2 separate regions of the Homo sapiens genome follow, and region 1 is linked to region 2. Evidence: fine-mapped expression QTL. A gene starts in region 2. The other region holds a variant in brackets. All regions are shown on one strand. Distances are between the middles of the regions. Region 1 overlaps GPRIN3 (GPRIN family member 3). Region 2 holds the start of GPRIN3 (GPRIN family member 3).

What was found. PIP is the estimated chance that this variant, and not a neighbour inherited with it, causes the effect.
Region 1: its variant is the best candidate, but not a certain one, in a credible set for the expression of GPRIN3 in cerebellar hemisphere (GTEx, PIP 0.80).

The regions. Positions count from the first base shown.
Region 1 is chr4:89,280,404-89,288,747 of GRCh38, forward strand. All of the region lies in intron 1 of GPRIN3 (GPRIN family member 3), which reads right to left. Among named protein-coding and RNA genes, the nearest start is that of GPRIN3, 23 kb to the right of the region's middle. The variant C/A (reference allele first, on the strand shown) is at 3,699.
Region 2 is chr4:89,302,998-89,311,341 of GRCh38, forward strand. GPRIN3 (GPRIN family member 3) reads right to left here and starts at 4,803. Exons shown (of 2, transcript NM_198281.3): 1 at 4,618-4,803. RefSeq lists silencers at 4,753-4,802, 4,813-4,882.

The DNA.
Region 1 (8,344 bases), 23 kb before region 2:
AATTCTTGAGTTTGGCATACAAGTAAGATGAGGCTTCTGTTGCCTCTTAAGCTTCATGTCTCTTGTTAGGTCCTCCAGAGCCTTTCAATACAACCATAAGGAAGGATCAATGGTTGCTCAAATATGTCATGGCCTCTCTGCCTTCTTCCAAGCTGCTTCCTGTTTCCTGAATGCTCTCTACTGTGTTGGACACTGTCCCCTAAAATTCAGGTCCACCTAGAACCGGTGAATGTAATTTTATTTGAAAATAGGTTTTTGCAGATATAATCAAGTTAGGACAAAGTCATACAGGGTTAGGGTGGGCCCTAAATCCAATATGATGGGTGTCCTTATAAGAAAGAAATTAGGACATAGACACAGACACACAAGCAAGAAGGGAAGAAAGTCCTGTGGAAACTGAAACAGAGATAGGAGTGATGCATCTATTAACCAAAAAATGCCAAGGATTGCTGGCAACCACCAGAAGTTAGAAAAGGGGCATTGTATTAGGCTATTCCTGCATTGCTATAAAGGAATAGCTGAGACTGGGTAATTTATAAAGAAAAGAGGTTGAGTTGGCTCACAGTTCTTCAGGCTTTATGGGAAGCGTGGTGCTGGCATCCGCTATGTTTCTGGAGAGGCCTCAGGAAACTTACAGTCATGTTGGAAGGTGAAGGGGGGGGATAAGCACATCACATAGCCAGAGTAGGAGCAAGACAGAGAGCAAGGTCCCACATAGTTTCATGTTTTTTTTTTTTTAGATAGAGTCTCGCTCTTGTCACCCAGGCTGGAGTGCAATAGCGTGAACTCAGCTCACTGCAACCTCCACTTCCTGGGTTTAAGCAATTCCCCTGCCTCAGCCTTCCAAGTAGCTGGGATTACAGGCACCCGCCACCACACCTGGCTAATTTTTGTATTTTTAGTAGAGACGGGGTTTCGCCATGTTGGCCAGGCTGGTCTCGAACTCGTGACCTCGTGATCTGCCCACCTCGGCTCCCCAAAGTGCTGGGATTACAGGTGTGAGCCACCGCACCCAGCTGCCACATAGTTTTAAACAGATCTCACTTCTCACAGAGAAGTCACTCACTGTCGTGAAGACAGCACTAAGAGGATGGTACTAAACCATGCATGAGAAATCTGCCCCATGATCCAATCACCTCCCACCAGACCCCACCTCCAACACTGGGGATTACATTTCAACATGAGATTTAGGCGGGGACACAGATCCAATCTATATCAGACATGGAACAACTTATCCCTTAGAGCCACTGGAAGGAACTAACCCTGCTGACACCTTGTTCTCAGATGATTAGCCCACAGAACAAGGACAGAACACATTTCTGTTGTTTTAAGCCACCCAGTTTGTGGTATTTTGTTATGGCCACTCTAGGAAACTAAAATACCCTCTCTACTCTTTCTTGCATTGCTAATAATCTCAACACAACTCAGCATTTTCTTCTATGGGAAGCCTTCCTTGCACTTTCCCATCCCTAAACCATTCCCCCTTAATTACAAGTCTTTCCTCTGTTGTCTCATTGCATTCTAAAGTCTTTATTATAATGCATTGCTATGCAGTCATCTTTTTTTTTTTTTTTTGGTCTCTTTAGTAAGAGTACTGTAGAGAGTGAGTGGGTGCCTGGTAGTCTCAGTATCCTGCATGGTGCTGGCAAGAAGAAAAAGAAGTACAGTTATTGTTTGGTGAATGCTAACATGCCTCTAAAGAAATGTGATTTTTATTTCGTGTATAATGCATTGCCAACAAAATTACTGTAACATAAAAGAATAGCCATTTCTATTACTGAAGTTAACTATATTCACTAGCAATGATGAGAATTATGTCCATCCTATCTCAAATCATGAATTATTTGCTTTGAATTTATTTTACTGTTTTGAATAGTAGTTTATAACAAAAATCAATGTCATATGAGTATCTAAATAATAGAAATATCCTTTGTAAACAATAAGATACTGGGAGTCAGGAATGTTTCCAACATGCCTTGTTACCTTGACCCTCAAGGGGTTGTAATCTCTCACCTGCTTCAGTGGTGTGCATCTATTATTGGGATAAACTCACAGATTTATAAGCCTCATTAGGAAAGGAAGGATCCAAAGTGTGTAGAACAAGCTTGTCCTTATGCAGTCCAGGACAGCTTTGAACATAGCCCAACACAAATCTGTAAACTTTCTTAAAACATATGTGATTTTTTTGCAATTTTTTTTTTTTTTTTTTTTTAGCTGATCAGCTATTGTTAGTGTGTTTTATGTGTTGCCCAAGACAATTATTCCAGCGTGACCCAGGGAAGCCAAAAGACTGGACAACCCTGGTGTAGAATATTAATCTGACAAATCACTTGTCAGAAGTATGGGATTTTTACCCACTAAAAACTACCTCTTCGTGGCCCGAGGTGGCTCAGAGAGCTATCCCCACTTTGCTGTCATGGGAACTATGAATCACAGTCTCAGAGTCTACATCGAAGACCTCACAAATCTGTGGAAATCTGCCTAATAAAGATATAATAACTTGGACTTTTAAGAATTCACTAATTTGATGACTTGCCACACATGCGATTATGTTACCCTCAGATGGTAATGGAGGAATGTTTTTCTGAAAGTGATAAGAACACTATGCACATACGTTCAGGCCTAAAAAGACCGATTGTTATTAATATTAACAAAGATAGCCAAGGCCTTTAGTGTTTTGTTTGTAAAATCCCTTGCTTCATTGAGGGCTATGAGAGGAAGTAAAGACAGGCCTTCAGAGTAATTATTTTTCTTATTCACTCAATTCATGCAGCTGAACAATAGGCCTATGTAGCACAAACATTAAACATTACTTTTTAGGCTATCCCAAATTGTTTAACATACACAATGTGCCAGGCCTGTGGTGGGTTCTAGAGAGCCACAAAGGCTCAATTCCTGCCTTCAGAAGCTCACATCCACTGGGCAGAAAGGTGATTTCATTGCTACAGATTTCAATGGTAACACAAGAAAAGAATGACTCATTCCAACTTTTGCAATCAGGGAAAGCTTCCGGGGAACCAGTGGAGATCTGCTGCAAAACAGGGAAGGAAAAAAATACCAGGAACATAGTAAGTAATCACACAGATCATGGTACACACAAGGTGGGTGGAATCTGCCAGTCCTCACCTTCAGGAAGTTCATATCTAGTGGGGGAGGCAGAAACATAAAGGGAGACTGGACTACGGTATAATGGTGAGCCCTTTGGTAGAGCTCGGCATAGGGTGTTATGAGTGCACAATGCTGGCATATCTAAGAGAAGGCCCACCCAAGGCCTCTGAGTGTAAGCAACAGCAATGCTGCCTTGAAAACTAAGCAGGACTTCACCAGTGGGGAGGAAAGGGCATTTCAGGTGCATATGGACAAGCATGAATAGATATACAGGCAGCCTACTGGGGAAGTGGTTGAGGGTGGGGTGGGGCTGGAACAATATTTAGTTGGCATGGCTGCAGCTCCGGATGCAAGATATAGGGCTAAAGGGTGTGACAAAGTAAAACTGCGGGGGGCTTTGTAAGTGAAACTGTGAGAAGTAGGGCACTGGCAGCAGGAACTGAGGGAAGGATGGACCTAGAAATACTGAAGAGGTCAAATCAGCTGTGCCCTCTGATTGAATGCGAAGGATGAAAGAATGGAAGGATCCAAGGTTTTAAGACAAGGCAGAAAAGCAACTGTGTTGAGGTAAACGCTATGACAGATGGTAT[C/A]ACAGGGTACCCACCACAAGCTGGTGAGGTAAGGGCCTCAGCAGGATTCTGGAAAGGTGTGCTGGGCAGAATGCCCTGAAGGATGGGGAGTCAGCCAGGTGAAGGAATGGGTGGGTGGAAGAGGCCACTAAAGCAAATGAACGGCATGAACAGAGACAGGAGGCTGAAGACCACATGCTGGAGGACTGCCAGCCATTCAGAATTACTGTCCCTTACCTTCTGGAAACATTTCACTGTGTGAGAGGCACAGTGGTTAACAATGCCTCTAGGATCAGATTATTCAGGTTCACATCTGGTTGGCCACTTACAAGCTGTGTGGCCTCAGGCAAATTAGTTGACTCCCCAGTGCCTAAGGTTTGTAACACTTGCCACCCAGGAATGAAAATAACACCTTCCTCTAGGATTGTTGTGCATTCTTAGAAGAGAGTTTTGCACACAGGTTAGCTAGTAGTAACAGCAATAATATTAGTGATTATGGTAGTAGAATTACTTGGGCTTTCTTACTAACAGGAACTCACCACCAGGTCTACCTTCCAAGTCCACTGCTCCTTCCCTAGCTCCCTTTTCTCACCCTGAAATCGCCTTTGCAAAAATTATATCAGTGAGAATATTATGGCAGTGGGGGAGATCTGATCTAGCCAACCCAACTCCCCATTCCTTGCCTTTAGCTTTCAAGCTGCCTTAATTATTCTTGGACTTAGGCCTAGGCCTAGCTAACTTTGGAAGACATTTAGATTATAGTTTAAATGAGAATGAGACCATCAGGCTAGGGGAAGGAGAGGAGCCTGAATTCTGCTAATAGGCTGGTCACAAGATATGCAACTTCCCCAATTACTACTGCAATAACATCACCAATGTAGACTGGCCTTTTGAGATATCTTTTCAGGCCTTTTGCATGTCTGACACTGCTGGCTCCACTTGGTCCTGCCAAACTGCTCCTGTGGCCCCACAGAGGAGTGACTCAGCTCAAGGGGACAGACAGCTTTGACTCCCTATGATTTCATCTCCACCCCAACCAATCAGCAGCAAGCACCTAGCCACTCTCACCCCTTCCCCCAAACTGCCTTTGAAAAATCCCTACCCTACACAGGGCGGGGTCGGTTGGGGGGTCAGGGGGCGGGGGAGGGACAACATTAGGAGAAATACCTAATGTAAATGATGGGTGCAGCAAACCAACATGGCACATGTATACCTAGGTAACAAACCTGCATGTTGTGCACATGTACCCTAGAACTTAAAGTATAATAATTAAAAAAAAAGAAAAATCCCTAAACATATGAGCCTTTATGAGATTGATTTGAGTAATAACTTTGTCTACCATGTGGCATGGCCAGCCTCGCATCAATTAAACTTTTTCTTTACTGCAATGCCATGGTCTTTATTTGTGCAGTGGGCAGGAAGAACCCCCAGGTGGTTACAACCCCATCTACTCCACAATCATAGAATAACCAAAAGATCATGCTTTATAACATGACATTTTAATTCTGAAAATGTGTTGGACACCTCAGGCTGCATCACAAATATCTCAACTTCCTGTTCTGTCACCCAATTCACTTCTTTTTACTTTTCCCAAATTTTACTATCTCCTTTCTCCATAATTACTCCTCAAATATTCTTCTGTAAACAAACTGAAACTGACAGAGATGGGGAAAAGGCATGCAAAGTAAATCAGTGTATCCAAGAAGAACTGGCTTATGAACTGGTGTTTGGGAGGGAATTACTATGGATAAGTAGCTTGTTAGAATGCTCATTCTTTTGCCTAAATCTCTAACTCTGCTACTCCAACTGCTTAATTTATCCTCAGGGGAAAGAGAAGCCGTATACTAGTTCTTCATTTGGATTAATCATTTTCTAGCTTGACTTCCTCAGTTGCAAAGACTGTCAGCTCTCTCACTTTTTCTTTTGCAGAACATATCCTTTTCTTTAACTTTTAGACATTTTCCTTCTTGCAGAGGTTGCTCAATTACATGTGTACGTGTATGTGTGTGTGTATATATATATATATATATATATGTAAACTAAGATGACATTAATTTGTTAATAAAAATTAAGAAAAATAATGCTTGAGGAGTTGTGATATTCTCTGACTGTTTTAACAATGGTAGTGAAAGGAGGCAAAAGTTAGGAGGAGCACCAACTTGCAAAACATGAGAAAGTTTCAACTAAACTCTGGTTTTTGCTGATGGTCTTATTAAAGTTGTACAGATGGTATCAGGTGGATGGTGTTCATTACAACTATGGTATAATGATGGTCTGCAAAATCTTTTGCTTGTTCTTTGTCTGGGACCTGCTTGGGAAAAGCTTTGGTATTTCCCTTTCAGCCAAGTTTGTCTTTCGCTGGTGCTTTCCTACACTGTGTCTTTATCACAGCTGGTATTTCTTTTTGTCAGAGAATCTACCTCATCATATTCAGAAAGCTTACTTTTAAAAGTTTTATAGTTCTCTTGCCTTTTTTCTTTGTGTTTTTTAGAATGTGACTCCCAATTCAATTTTTTTTGTTTCTTACGTACATATCCTTTTATACATTAATTTTGTCTTTTTCCTTTGAGAAAACAAGACTCTCAAAAAAGAAAAGTCACCAATTACTGATAGGGAAGATATTTTCTTTCTCCCATTACATTGAAGACACCAAGACACTTAAAACAACACACAAAAAGAAATAACTATTAATCTTACAAGGATTTAGAAGGTAGTACTCCCAAAGTACTTAGAAAGCAAATTATTTTTGAATTCTACTACTCCAGCTGGACCCAGTGGTATGTGCCTGTATTCCCAGGTACTTGGGAGGATGTGGCAGGAGGATCACTTGAGCCCAGGAGTTTGAGGCTATAGTGAGCTATGATCATGCCTGTGAATAGCCACTGCACTTCACTCTGGGTAACATAAGAAGACCCTGTCTCTAAAAACAAAACAACTACTCTGGCCTCAGAATCTTGAGGAATTCAGTAGTGAACTCAATGGAAAACAAATGAATTCAAGAACTATTTATTGAGGCTTCTTATGTATAAGGCATTGTGCTAAATTCTGTGGGGGCTATACAAACATATATACAAGACATACAAAACTGGCCTCCAAAACTAAATATTTCAGGGAAGATACACCATGAAAAATAACTCTTGTACTAGACATGTAGAGAAAAATGCCATGAGAGAGCAAGAAAGCAAATGATTAATTAACATTAGGATAAATTTAAAAGGTGTTTTGGAGGTATTTGGCAGAGATTTTAAAAAATGCATATAATTTTATTTCCTTAAGCTACTGAAATTTTGGGGTTGTATATGTTACAACCTGTGGTTAATACAATGAAACTGACCAAATTGAACTGTGTCCTATTTCCTAGCACAGGATAAATATTCGAGTTGGGTTTTAAAAGCTGAGCCTTTGGGCAGAGGGAAGAGGCTAAGGAAAGATTTAAAGGCAGGGAGGTACAGACTTACTGTGGTCCCTGTGGTACACTGTTACCTGGAACTTGAAAGTATATGCAGGAAGAGCTGGGATGGGGAGATAATGGGCTGGGGCTTGGGATACTCATTGGGAAATTCAGTTCTAGACACAAGCCTATTATGAATAGACTTCAATGCCAGGTTAAGAAAATGGATTTAATTCCAGAAACTATTTCAAAGTTCTAACCCTGAAATGAGTAAAACATGAATGACTCCACTAAATAAAATGTGGAATGAAAGAGAAGAGAGAAATGTTGGGAGTGTTTAGAAGTGTTATTGAATATTAGGAAAATCATAATAAATCCTAAAGTTAAGAAAGACTGATAGGCTGATGCCATGATAATCTTGATTTTTACTGACCCCTGCAAATATGGAAGAAAATTTGCACTAGTTTCAGTGTCAGGCCAGCAAACTTGTATCACATAATGACCAAAAAAATTCTTTTCATCAATTTTCTTGGGAGCGCTCATGATTTTTGACTGATCATTTGAACACATGGAATAATGTACTGTCTAATTTCGGTGCCTCGAGGGCCCGTGCAGATCACAGAATCTTGCTCCTGGCATTGGATAGTTTTTCCCAGAGCAGTGGCAGATGTCCCTGAGCCGTGTCTGTTTTCTCTCTGTGACTTCTTAACTGCATGCATTTTTAAGGTGGCCGATTTGAGAAAAGACATGTGATCCCAAAGAAAGGTTTTTTGTTTTTTTCTTTGCAGAGCCAACTAGCTCTTGCTTGGCTTTCTAGATCAAGAATAAAATATAATCAGTATGACACAAATAGATTTGATGGTTGTTCTATGCTGTCTTGGTCACTCATTTATAAGAAATTGTTGAAAGGGTATATATTAAACCAATATTCTCTTCAACTTTTTCCTTTTCACAAATGATTTTCTGGGTCAACTAAGTTTGCATAAATGCAAACTTCTGGAGTGAAATTCAGGTTTAATATATTCTACATGAGGGCAGCAGGCAGCTGATGAGCAAGTTGTTCTTATTCTGTGTACCTTGATAGGATTCAACTTTGGCCCAGATGAGGGGAATTTGTTTTTCCATGCAGGGCACTCTCATGAGAGTTTCAGAAAAACAATATGCTCTTGTCAGAACAGTATGCAGTTCTTCTAAAACTGGGGCTGAACTACATTTTACCCTTTAAAGGTCAGGAGATATTATTATGCAGCAAATTTAGCCTATGATTTATCTTAAA
Region 2 (8,344 bases):
AAATTGTTCTATTCCAGAGAAAAGACACCAAGAGCTGAATGAAGCCCACCAAGAAAATGTTCAGGAACACAAGTAAAGGTTTTCTTCTCTAACTTTGTCTCTTCAGAATAACTGTTAGGGTACAGCAAAACACAAGAATAAATTTTCTAGAAATGCATACAAACATATTTAAATATCTAACTAAGAAGATGGACAAGTCATAGAGCAACTGACGAAAAGAAAATATGGCAGATGCTGCCGTTCCTTTAGGAGTTCATGGCTACCAAGCGATCTGGTTCATCTTCACAGCCTGTCAGTTCCTCACATGACCACCTCGGCCTTCTGTGCCAACGACTGTAGTTGCATTCTGAGAAATGAAATAATCACGCCACAATGTGGTGTATCTCGTAATGTCAATAGTTCAACAGTAACATTCAACTGAACAAGGCCTAACCAGTAAATTACTGCAAAATAAATAAAAAGATGGCAGGAAATGGCAGATTTATGATGTTATGGCCACTCTGGCTAGATTTTCTTAAAGTAGCAGTATTAGGAAAATAGATCTTAGTCATAAAATAATTAACAACTCAAAAAAGGTCAAATATACAGAGCTAGAGAATAAAACAGTGATTACCAGGGTGAAGATGATCAGGGGAGGAAAAGGGGGCATCCAGGTCAAAGGATACAAAGTAGTAGATATAAAAGATGTATACGTTATTTGGTTCCACTACAGACACCGTCACCATTTTACATTTTATGTATATACATGTATACCATTATATATATTTATATATAAAAAATATAAAATATGTATATATGTGTATATATAAAAAATATATAAAATATGTATGTATGTATCTTATAACATCACGTTGTATACTTTAAATATACACAATGAAATTTATTTTTTTAAAAAGTAACTCATGTAATATTTCAGTCCAAGCAGAAATTCTACTGCAGTTCTCTTCCAACTTGATATTTATTTCTTCTTTTCTAAATGATTCTTAAATATAACTGCCATTACTTCCTCATTCTTTGCTTCCTCCTTCTATAGACATGAAATCAGCACCCCTTCCTCACTGCACATCCAGGTCCATCCATCTTTTATAAACTAACTCAAGATCCCCCTCCTCCTTGAAGCCTTTCCAGATTAATTCAGTCCCCAAGGATCTTGCTCTCTGACTTTACTGCCATGTACTCACTAAATTGTAAGTCTTGCCTTCCTCAATCAGGCAATTATGCTATTCAGAATATTGCGGAAAATGCTTGTCTATCAGATCTGTCAGATCTCTTGGTCGGCTCTTGGCATCTTGCAAACTGGGAACATCTCTTCTTTGTATCACTTAAAGCAGTAGCTTTCAGACTTTTTGGAAAATGATGTATAATGAGGTATACATTTTATATCACAGTCCATTATGCAGGCTTGCACACACACACACATACGTATATATATATTTAAGGAATTTCATGAACAATACTTACTCTTCTGTTTTAGTATTTTATTTTTCAAAAATAAAAATGCTGATCAGACTCACTAAACTGACTTCACAGTGTGCTAGTTTGAAAAGCACCATTCTTGAAGGGCACTTAATGATTACTATGGGATTACTGTAACTATTTCTCTCATTTAAAAAATAATTTTTAAAAATGTATGTGGCCTTTGGGGTCTGTTTAGCCTGTGTTCCTGAGTTACTTGTTTGTTCAGTCTGTTTTTTACACTATCATATGTTTGCCTTTTGGAGTCATCTAGGACAAATAAATACTTAGAATATACACTCTTTGTCATTCTTTTCCCCTGAGCCCTATTCTCATAAAAATAAGAATCCTTGAATTTTTATAACTCATTTCTACATAATTCAAACCTCTATTCCCTCATTCTCTCTCTTATTTTTCTAATATGCAAAGTAGGTGGTAGACATTTGTAGATGAAATATTTGAGCCAAAAATAATTAAGACTTTTCCCCCTTTAAGCAGCCTATTGTAAATTAAGGTAAATATAATTTCTAGATATTTGAAGAATATAAATTTGGGTAATCTGAATACCATAGATCCTCAAAATGAATGCATTCACCTAAATCACCCAGATAAAATGGTTTACTGACCAGATGAGTTGGCAGGCCTTTTGGACTTCAGTTTGTAGGTGGATCCTGCTGCCCTCTCCATTCTCGTCTTACCATCTTTATGTACTCACACTGTTTTTCAACCACCTGGAGCTATGTATTTTCCTTGGTCTCTGCTTATTTTGGTCCCCGTGCCAGGAATGTCCTTCCCTCTCTTCTTCACTGGGCTAGGTCCTCTCATCTTTCAGGTCCATGGGAAACTCTCCTTATTCTCTCCACCTCTACCCTGGCCTCCACAGCACCCTGTCAGGGCACTCCACCAGCGGTTGCTGGCAGTGTCCCTCCCAAGTTTTGCAGGCTGAGACTATGTCTTGTTTATTCTTCTATTCCACAATCTAGGACCATGTCCAGTCCAGGATTAAATATATGTTGAATATATCAACATATATTCATGAAAAAGTGAATGAATGAGTGCATAAAGGGCAGGAGCAGCTGCCAATGAAAGAGCTCAAATAAGAGCTGTGGCTAGAATCATGTGTCCTCCTTCTCTGAGCCCAACATTTTATAATTTTGTGATTCCAAGACCAATATTTCCGTGTTTCCTGCAAGCTGCAGATTTTGCAACTGGAAATTCAAACAGTGAAGGATAGCTGGATCTAAATATAGTCTTTTAAGTATGTTGAGGCATAATTAAGAAAATGTTGCAGGAACAAATAATTAAGCATATTGGGCAATTTTTTTGAGGCAATTAAAACACTCAAATTTCAAAACAGCTTGCTGGAATCCAGCCTGCCCTCCAATTGACACTGATCTGACTCATACAACGCCTCAGTCCTCTACTTCCCATGTGAAGCTGATGCACTTGTGATTTTGTCCTAATCATTTTCGTAGAAGTCTAGTTAGTGATTAGGTGAAGGCTCACCACACCACAACACACTGTACATGGCTCTCCATGAGTTCCTCTGCTGTTTCCAAAATAAATTTCAATCATATAACATCTAGGCCTGCAATTGCAATTGCTGTTTTTTTTTTCTCTTTTGAATCAATAACCTATTCCCTCGATTAAAGACACACAAAACTTGAAAAACTAAACACACACAAAAACTCGAAAAAGAACATTCTCTAACGCAAACTCCTGTCTTTTGCAGATAGCAGCAGAGATTTTCTGCTTTGGGCTGTGACTCATGTACCTTTATTCCCACAATTGTTACTCAGGGCAGGCCAATGGTGAGCACAATGGGAAAAGAAAGAATAGGTTATAACTGGAAAATAAGCACATTCGGGCGAAGTACACTCAAAGCATTATCAAAGTAAAATATGCAGCAGCACCAACAAGAGCAAACAAAAGCCCACGCAGGAGATGTGTAAATATTTCATGAAGCAAAGCCTTAATCAACCCTCTCTCCCAAATCTTGCTGGTGTTGTAAACACTTCAGTTTCTTCTAGTCCCACCATGACCCAGATACCTTGCAAAAACAAAATAAAAACATAGTCCAATGGATCTTTAAACAAATGTGTTGTGAAAATATTTAGATGGAGCATACCCAAGTACCGCTTTAACCAAGAGGAAGAAGACACCTTACTCAAAGGTGGGTGCTTCTTGAGTGACTGCTCAGAGCTCTGTTTCTCCCCTCCCCCTCCAAGCCCTTGCCTTTTGCCCACCTCCTCGGCTGCTTTGTGGACATTCACATCGTCTTAACCTTGAACTGCCTACACCCCAAGCGGTGATTTCTCCCAATGGCCCTCCAGAAAGCCCTTGAAACCTGGTCTGGATTCGATGCCTTCCCATCACCCAAAATTCACTTCCCAGTGGCATATTAAGTACCTCTCCTTTTTTCCCTCTTTCACTGTCCATTATTGCGTCTGAAATGATGCCTACATCGTTTCCATCTGCCTGGAGAGCATGAAGATCTTCTGTGTGTGTTGGCTGACAGGCTCCTTCAGACCTCTTCTAAAGCCCATCTTGAAAGAACCGTTTATCACCTCTAGTCTCTACCCTGATTTAATGTGGTTCCAAAGTTCGCCTCTATTAGTGAACATGTCTCTACAACGATTTCCCTTTATCAACCCCTGCCCGCCCTTCCTCTTCTTTCTGCCTACCTCAAGAAAACCTATTTACATATGCATTTATGTATGTGTGTGTATATACACACACATACATACATCCATATGTAATATATATTTCTATGTTTTGACCTTAAAGGGGATAAGCATAGGAAAATGAGACAAATGTCACACACACACACACACACACACACACACCCCTCATATTCGGATATTCGCAGTGTGCAGACCCGATTGATTATAAATTTCCCTGCCCACGATCAGCAGGCGTCTTCTCCCATTTACCTTCAAAGCCAGAGCCAAAGAGAGCAATGACCTTGCAGAGAAATTCATCACCTGCGAGAAAGACTGCCCCTCCTAGAGCGCAGGATGGGACAGAGACAAGAGCAACAGGCAAAGGATCCCTGTGCAAAATGTGGGACCGAATCCCTTCCGCATCCCTACAGAGCACACCACCAGGCTCCGGTCCCCCGCGCTGGCCGCCAGGCGGAGGTGCGCAGGGGGCGTCTCCTACCTGCTCTGCCCGGCTCCGCGGCGCGGCGGGGCCACTGCCTGCGCTGTGGCGGGGGCTTCCCGTCGCATATCCCAAGCACCGTCTCTCGGCGCCACACCGATGGCTCCGGCGGGCCCGCGAGCTGAGGTCCTTCTCAGCCCGGTCCCGGAGCGAGCTCCGTGCGTTCAGGAACTGAAATTACTATGCCAAGAGCAGAGGCGGCGCGCAGCAGTCGGGCGTAGACCGAGGGGGCTGCCCCCACCGCGGGGCTGCAGACGCCGCCGCCGCCCCCGCCGGGCGCAGAGCCAGTTTGGAGGTGAGAGTTCACTTGCCCGACTGTTCATCCGTCAGGCCCGGGGTGTACCCATCTGTCCAGCGCTGCCCAGCCTGAGCATCCGAGAGAGGGGCGACAGCTTTGCAGGCGGCGGCGGCGGCAGCAGCAGCGGCGGCAGCAGGAGGCCGAGCTCCGCCCCCTCCAAACCCCCTCCCCCGCCTTCCCGGTCCTGGGGGAAAGTGTTGCAGCCCAGGCTGCTGAGCGCCGGGCCGGGAGCTAGGAGGGGTCTGGTGGGTTGTGGTTCTGCACCCCTGGAGACCAGAGACAGATGGAAAGTTAAGAAGGGATTAAGGAAGAGGGCTGGGGACCCAGAGCGATTTAGCAGGCATTCTGGCCCTTGCTCCCTCCCACAGGTCACCAGACTCCATGGCTGAGTCTAGACTCTAGCAGAAGGTTTCCAATAAAGCCACGTGCAGTGGAGATCTGAAAGCAAGATCATCCGATAAGTAATATGTTTTGCAAAATGTACAGTATCCTGCGTATTCGGAGAGGCACTGCTGACAGTGTTCCTGTCCCCATCCCCTTCCCGCTACCCCATGGGCTTGGAGGGCTTTGAGGGCTTTGGAAATCTTCCCTGTTGAGCAGCTCCAGAATCCTGAATGGATGTGTAGTATGGTTAGCAGCTGTAGATGGTGCAAAATGATACGATGAAAAGAGCTTCATTATTAACTGGGTATTTGTTGGAAGGCTCTGTGAAAAATGCCTTACATACAGCCTCAGCCTCTTTAATTCTTACTACAACCCATTGAGGTGCCTTACCATGTGGACGAGGAAACAGGCTTATATGATCTAAACACTTTGCTTGAGGTCACACAGTAGTAACCTGCTCAGCTGGGATTCAAACCAATCCAAAATATATCCTCTCATCTAGTACACAGGACTCACCTAGGGGGTCTTGTTAAAATGCTGATTGTGATCCAATAGGTCTGGGGTAGGGACTGAGGAAACGCTTTTTTAGTTTTTTGTTGTTGTTGTTTTTTGTTTTTTGCTTCGTCTCCTAGGCTGGAGTGCAGTGGCGCGCTCTCGGCTCACTGCAAGCTCCGCTTCCCGGGGTCAAGCGATTCTCCTGCCTCAGCCTCCCAAGTAGCTGGGATTACAGGCGCCCACCACCACGCCCGGCTAATTTTTGTATTTTTAGTAGAGACAGGGTTTCTCCACGTTGGCCAGGCTGGTCTGGAACACCTGACCTCAGGTGATCCGCCCGCCTCGGCCTCCCAAAGTGCTGGAATTACAGGCGTGAGCCATGCCTGGCCCAGGATAGGCATTTCTAACAAGCTCCCAGGTAATGCCCATGCTACTGGCCAAAAGATCAAACTTTGCGGCACTATTCACAATAGCAAAGACTTGCAACCAACCCAAATGTCCGTCAATGATAGACTGGATTAGGAAAATGTGGCACATGTATACCATGGAATACTATGCAGCCACAAAAAAGGATGAGTTCATGTCCTTTGTAGGGACATGGATGAAGCTGGAAACCATCATTCTTAGCAAACTATCACAAGAACAAAAAAACAAACACCGCATGTTCTCACTCATAGATGGGAATTGAACAATGAGAACACATGGACATAGGAAGGGGAACATCACACACCGGGGCCTGTTGTGGGGTTGGGGGAGGGGGGAGAGATAGTATTAGCAGATATACCTAATGTAAATGAGAAGTTAATGAGTGCAGCACACCAACATGGCACATGTATACATATGTAACAAACCTGCACGTTGTGCACATGTACTCTAGAACTTAAAGTATTAAAAAAAAAAAAAAAAGATCAAACTTTCTAAGCCCCTAGATCAGGGATTTTAAATAAGTTTCTTCTTTTATGCCAGGTGTAGTTAATTGATAGCTGCTTCCTGAAGGTGGGTTAAGAAGGATTCTCTGGCTCTGTCTGGGTTCTCCGGCTAGCCATGTTCATTTTGGTTGAAGACGAAGGGAGCTGGGTCATCTTCCCTACACTAGGCCGCTTCTAAAAGGACATCTTTATGACAGGAGTGGTTGTGGCATAATATTTATGTCATCATAGTATTCATATCATAAATATGCTAAGCACAGATGTCTTTATTCCAGTTCTCCCTCTCATTAAGCAAACTAAGCCAAAGTTTTAGGCCTAACATTTGTATAGGATGAAACACTTTGCAAAGTGTTCATGTGAATAATTTTATTTGTCTTTATACAACACAGTAAGGCAGATATAATTTCACTCTACAGGAAAGGAAACTGAGATAGGGTGACTTTCCTGAGATTATACATTTAATATATTATATGTGTGGTAGGGACTAGGTTGTGACCTATCTCTAGTTCTGTCTAGGTCTGTTTGTACTATCTTACTGTATTCATTTCCTGTTGCTGCCAACAAAGTATCACCAACTGAATAAAATACAAATTTATTAGCTAACAGTTCTGGAAGTCAGACATCTGAAAATGGATCTTTTAGAGTTGAAATCAAAGGCCCGCAGGGGCTGTGCACTCTTTCTGGAGACTGAGGGGAATCACCTGTTCCCTCCTTGTCTTTTCTGGCTTCTAGAGGCTGCCTGCATTCCTTGGTTGGAGAACTCTAACCTCTACTTCTCTTGCCTCATCTCCTCCAACTCTGATCCTCCTGCATCCCTCCTGGAAGGACCCCTGTAATGACATGGGGTCCACCTGGATAACCCAGAGTAATCTCCCCATTTCAATGTTCTTAATCACATCTGTGAAGTCCCTTTGCCATGTAAGGTAATATATTCATAGGTCCCAGGGTGTAGATATCATTGGAGAGGGTCATTATTCTGCCTATCAAAACCACATTTAGTACTTATTCTGTAGTTTCTACTAGACCTTATTCATCCTTCTCCTCTGTTTCATTTCTCAGACTGCTGGGAAGTTTTTATAGCTTAAAAATTCACAGGGAAGTTATTCAAGAGACAACAATAACAAATCAGTATTGACAAGAAATACCTCAAAGTCATGAAAAAATCATGAAAAGGACACATTGGATTATGCTCATGAAAAAGACATATAAGATGTACAGCTGCTTTTGGTCTGACTGACACTGAGATGATCCTTGAGGGACATCCTAAATACAATTAAAGGACCTCTTTAGCAATACAAAGGTTTTAAAAATTCTGCTACTCAAACAGTACACAGTTCCGTGATGAATAAGGTGATTCAAAACTCATGCAGAATTGAGTACAACACCAAATTCTAAACAGGGTGATGGTTTTCAGAGTGATGATACACATTAAATCAGTCCATCAAACGAAATCAATAAATGCTATTGAATGCCTTTTGTACTCAAAGCATTTGTAGAAAGACTGATATACGGAAGTTTGTCATTTCATTGGGAACACAGAATTTATAAAAAATGAAATCACAAAGGATTTAAACAGAAGAAACAATAGAAGCAACTTGAGCTGGTATATTATTAATTGCCA